Linked DNA regions of Homo sapiens: region 2 is linked to region 1. A link means that fine-mapping ties the variant in region 1 to the expression of a gene that starts in the linked region. Tissue or cell type: esophagus mucosa. Region 1 holds a variant in brackets; the other region holds the start of a gene. All regions are shown on one strand. Distances are from middle to middle.

Evidence for each region. PIP is the estimated chance that this variant, and not a neighbour inherited with it, causes the effect.
Region 2: it holds the start of LRRC38, and the variant in region 1 is fine-mapped to the expression of LRRC38 in esophagus mucosa (GTEx, PIP 0.94).

Annotation. Positions count from the first base shown.
Region 1 is chr1:13,618,272-13,621,112 of GRCh38, reverse strand. No RefSeq gene overlaps it. Among named protein-coding and RNA genes, the nearest start is that of PDPN, 36 kb to the right of the region's middle. The variant A/G (reference allele first, on the strand shown) is at 1,689.
Region 2 is chr1:13,512,747-13,515,417 of GRCh38, reverse strand. LRRC38 (leucine rich repeat containing 38) reads left to right here and starts at 1,415. Exons shown (of 2, transcript NM_001010847.2): 1 at 1,415-2,455. The coding sequence starts at 1,825. It overlaps LOC107984918 (a long non-coding RNA gene), which reads right to left and starts at 2,198. Exons shown (of 3, transcript XR_001737896.2): 1 at 2,077-2,198; 2 at 874-1,127.

The DNA.
Region 1 (2,841 bases):
TTTTTTTTTTTAATGTAAGTCAGATCATGTCACTCCTCTGCTCAAAAGCTTCCCATGGCTCCCCATTTCCAAGGGCACTCCACCTCTCTGACGTCATCTCCTACCATGGTCCCCTGCGCTGACTGCTCCAGCCTTCTGAGCTTCCCTGCATTCCCTAAAACATGCCAAGGGTGCTCCTGCCTCAGACCTTTGCTATGCCCTTTGCCCAGAATACTTTTCCCTCAGGTACCCATCAGGATCACTCCTCGCCGTGCCACTTCAGGAACATGGCTTGACTCTCAGAGAGGCCTTCTCCCACCCCAGACTCCATGCTGCAGCTCCTCCAAACTTGAACTTCCTCTCCTTGCTGTGTTTTTCTCCATTGTCTCTCATTTTCACACTCTTATGATTTACTTATTTTTTTTTTGCAGTCTCCAGCATTAGAATGTAAGCTCTATGTGAGCAGGAATTTTTGTTGGTTTCATGCACTATGGATTCCCAGCACCTGGGACGGGCCTGAACATAAATATTTGAATGAATAAATAAATGAAGGAACAGATTACTCCTGTCCCATGAGAGTTCTTCAGCAGTTATACCCAAGGGAGTGTCTTTTGTTTCTGGATCTTGCTGGACAAGAATCCTACTCCCTTTCCAGTGAGCCCTGGGCCATCCACAGATCCAGCCTCACCTACAGATGCTCTGTGGAAGGGTGGGAACAGGAGCAACAGGAAGGGGTCCACCTCCTGCTTCGGTCAGGACACCTGCACACCTTCCTGAGGTTACATGCGGAGGACCGTAAGCTCATTTATTCAAACAAATATTTCAGACGACCTCTTTGACTACTTCAGCAGCATCCAGAGGGAAGCCGTCACTTCAGAAACATTTGCTGATCGCCCTGGTATGTGACCAGCACGTGATTGTTTTCTCAAAAATTTGCATCAGTGGAAAGGCAGAGGCAGCAGTAGAGAAGGAGGTAGGAAAGAAAAAATGGGAGGAGGAGCAAGGTCTCAGAACCACGCATAGGACTGTCTGTACTATGGCCCGGAGCCCTTGGATGTAGAAATAGAACACGCTGTGCTTTGAGTCAGCATCTGATAAAATAATCTCAGAGTAAGAAACAGTGCTGAGGAATAGTGTTTAGTGCTTTCAGGCTGGCTTTGCCTGTACCAGGTACGTACCTGCATGCTGGGCCCCTGAGCCAAAAAAACTCCCATTCACACCAGTGAGTGTGATTTTAGACTCATTCTGCATTGTTGACCAATAACCACACTTACATCATTTATATTTACTGAGTTGAAAAATCCAGGATCTATTATATGTTCTAACCCGATTTTAAGCTTCAGGAAGAGCAAAGAAAAAGGCAATGTTTCAGGGAACAAGTCCTCCAGCGCACACAAGGGGATGACTCTATTTTTAGTGCATGTGTTAACATGCAGCTATATTTTGGGGAGGATTCTTTTTCCACTTCCAATGGACTTTTAATTGGCAAAAGTTTTAATATCAAAACGTGCACCATTCCCCAATCGAAGCATGTCACAAACTGCCCCATGCCCTGAATACTAAATAAATCTGAATTAAAATAAAAATAGAGACAGCAAAGGGATTAACAGTTCCTTGCTCTTTCCTATTCATGAAAGCCAAGCCTTGAAGGTGGCCCATGAAGCAGAACTAAGCCCTGGTTTTTCAACTGGTTTTCCCAGGTTGAGGGG[A/G]AAAAGTAGGGGTTAAAAACAAGGCCTTTATATCATGCAAAGAGCTAACCTCAGCACCCCCTGCTCCCAGATGTCTCTGATAGAGCTGTTTCCCTAAACTTTCAGAACCCTGGCAGCTCCCCCAGTTTCCAGTCATCTCCTGGGGGTGGCATGTAATGGAATGTAAATTTACATGTAACATAGTTGAGGGTCCGTTCTCTTTCAATCTGTTGGACTAGGTAGACGTGGTTAGTTTCCTGCTAGAAAAGGGATGCTTTCTGACATCTCATGAAAGTTCTTAGAAGAAACTGCAGCCCAAAGAAGTTAAATGACTTCCCTGAAGGGTTACAGGTGTGGAGGAGCAGAACAGGACTAGAACCCTGGTCCATTTTTTAAGAGATGGGGCTCTCACTTTGTTGCCCAGGCTGGCCTTGAACTCCTGGCTTAAACGATCCTCCCACCTCAGCCTCCCAAACAGCTGGAACTACAGGCATACAATATGGTTCCTTGTTTGGAACTCAAATGGGCACCCAGGATTACTGACAACGGACAAATTCAACAGTCCTAATTTAACAATATTGAATATTTATTTCGAGGAAGTCATGGGGCTAACTGCTCTCCCGCTCCTAGCACCTGATCCTTACGCTGGCAGGGAAGGGACCCGCATCAGGAGGATAAATCCACATGGAGTGGTGCGGTGGGGTCGGGAGGAGGAGATCTGCAGCACCCACCCAGGAGCTGGCCAGGGCAATCTCCAGACAGAGTCGGGGTGAGCAAGGAACCGTGGGGCGTCCCCCAGCAACAGGGATTCACCTCTCCTGAGGTGAGGTTTCTAGGGAGGACTAGCAGGGGCAAGATGAAATTGCCCCCTCACCTGGTTTTACCCTCCAGTGCTGAGAAATTAATCAGGTGGCTGGGCACAGTGGCTCACACCTGTAATCCCAGCACTTTCGGAGGCCGAGGCAGGGAGAGATCACGAGGTCAGGAGATCAAGACCATCCTGGCCAATGTGGTGAAACCCCGTCTCTACTAAAAATACAAAAATTAGGTGGGTGTGGTGGTGCACGCCTATAGTCCCAGCTACTTGGGAGGCTGAGACAGAATTGCTTGGGCCCAGGAAGTGGAGGCTGCAGTGAGCCGAGATCGCGCCACTGCACTCCAGCCTGGGCGACAG
Region 2 (2,671 bases), 110 kb after region 1:
TCTTCAATAATTTATACATCATTTATGTAGGCAGAAGCATTTTCATCCACTCTGGGAGCATTCAGACCACTCCTCCCGACACCTGCCTCTTCAAGAGCATGAGACTGGGGTGGGGAAGCTGAGCCCTTGAAGTTGGGGATGGCAATGGCAAATTGGGCACCCTGGGAGAGTGGAGACAGAGACGGAGAACTGAGGGAGGTCTGGCTTAGTGGCCTGGAATGTAAGTAGGGGAAAAGCTGCAGGACTCCAGGTGCCTCAAAGCTTCCCCCTGGGTCTCCCCCGCCTCTTCCCCAGGGCTCCTGCAAATATGCTCATCTGTTGAGCCCTTGGCTCCATCCCAGGGGATCAGTTTTTTCATCCCATGGCTCAGAGGCATCAAGTCGGCCTGTACCTTTGGAAGAAGGCCGAGGGCTTAGCTTTATGGCTTCAGAATCCGAGGCTCCACCAATCCCCAGCATGGCCAGGGGCCAGGGAAGGGTCTCTGGGAGCCTGCTGCCCAACAGCTGTTCCCTGGGTTATTTTGGTCTAGTGGGAGTCTGTCAATTCTAGGGCATTTGGACCAAAATAGCCAACAGCGGGACAATCTCTTGGTAGCTCTGTGGGGACCCCTCCCCATATAGAAGTTTCTAGAATGAGGTGGGACAGAAAGAAAGGAGTTTGGCATCGGGGTGGTGAAGAGGGAATTTTCCTGCCAGTGTCAGAGGCTGACATCAGCATTTCCTCACTGTCCTTTCATCTCAGCCTTGGCACGTTCCTGACTGCCTCCCTAGGCTATCCAAGGTGGGGTTTTGAGGGGGAGAGAGGAAAAGATAATTTTTGAACTTTGTTCTTGACTTCTTGGTCCTCCCCCAAAGCTGATGAGATATATATTACCTTTTTCCATTTCACAAATGGAGCTACCAGGTCCACAGAGGCAGAGGTACTGGTCTGAGGCCACACAGCTTGGAAGCCAGGCCTGGTGACTCCAGGCCTCAGAGCCTCAGCAGCTGGACCTCTCAGACCAGCAGCTGATCCTTGCATGGATGCCAGTTCCATCCAGAAGTTCGGGGCCGGCATGGAAAGTGCTGACTGGCCCTGCAGGCCACAGCGGGGGCCCTGGCAGCCACTTGCCTCGCTCACCCTCCAGCCTAAGATGGTTCAAGTGCAGGTGGGGGAGGGAAGAGGGAAGACCAGTCACTCACTCTCTCCCCTTGGAACCCCGCCCAAATTCAGACCAGCAGACCCTGGCGCGGCACCCGAGAACCTGCAGGGATTGCCCCCGGAGCAGAGTCAGAGTGACCCAGGTCCCACTCCCTTTGGCGACATAGGGTGGCGTGCAGGGAGCGTGCTTTGGCACCAGGCGGGCGCGAGGGGGCAGGGCGCACGCCCGGGACACGCCTTAGGGAAACCGCTCCTGGGCTTGGTAGCTGAACTTAGACGTCGAGTGCAGCCCGCCCGGTGCGCGCGGCGTCTTACTGCCAGATCTCGGAAATCAGCTGCCAGGGTGGGGCCGCGTTTTGGCGACGGCCACTCGGCCACCCCTGCCGCTCCCGCCTCTCCCAAGAGATTTTTCTAGCGGGTTAATTTCCTGTCCGGGTAAACCCTTTGGTGAGTCCCTCGCCCCTCCCTCCCCGCCCCTCCCCTCTCCATCCCTGCTGTCCCGGCTCCCCAGTCCGTCCGCGCCGCGCTCCATCGCCCCCGCACGCCCGGGCGCACGCCCTCCCCGCCCGGGCCGCCCTCTGGCTCCCCGCGCCCGGCAGCCAGTGCCTCACCGCGCCGTCCCGCGCCAGGGCTCGCTCCGAGAGCCGCTTCCTTCTCGCCGCGGCCGGCGCGGGCCCCCCGGCCATGCGCCCCCGAGCCCCAGCCTGCGCCGCCGCGGCGCTCGGGCTCTGCAGCCTTCTGCTGCTGCTCGCGCCCGGGCACGCGTGCCCCGCGGGCTGCGCCTGCACCGACCCGCACACCGTGGACTGCCGCGACCGCGGGCTGCCCAGCGTGCCAGACCCTTTCCCCCTGGACGTGCGCAAGCTGCTGGTGGCCGGCAACCGCATCCAGCGGATCCCCGAGGACTTCTTCATCTTCTACGGCGACCTGGTCTACCTGGACTTCAGGAACAACTCGCTGCGCTCGCTGGAGGAGGGCACGTTCAGCGGCTCGGCCAAGCTCGTGTTCCTCGACCTCAGCTACAACAACTTGACCCAGCTGGGCGCCGGCGCCTTCCGCTCGGCCGGGAGGCTGGTGAAGCTTAGCCTGGCTAACAACAACCTGGTGGGCGTGCACGAGGACGCCTTCGAGACCCTGGAGTCGCTGCAGGTGCTGGAGCTCAACGACAACAACCTGCGCAGCCTCAGCGTGGCCGCCCTGGCCGCGCTGCCCGCGCTGCGCTCCCTGCGTCTGGACGGGAACCCCTGGCTGTGCGACTGTGACTTCGCCCACCTCTTCTCCTGGATCCAGGAGAACGCATCCAAACTGCCCAAAGGTGAGCCGAGCCGGCTAGGCTGGGGGAGGGAGGGAGGGGGGCAGGGAGAGGCCACCCCAGACCCCAGTCTGGGTGGGAGGAGCCGTGGGTTGAGTTTGGAAGAGGAGGCTTGGGGGATCCTGAACTTTTCCTGGGTCTCTGCTGGGGAAGTGGGTGGAGAGGGACGCATCTGGAATTCTTTGGAGTTTCTGAACCCTGAGGCTGTACTTCTTCCCC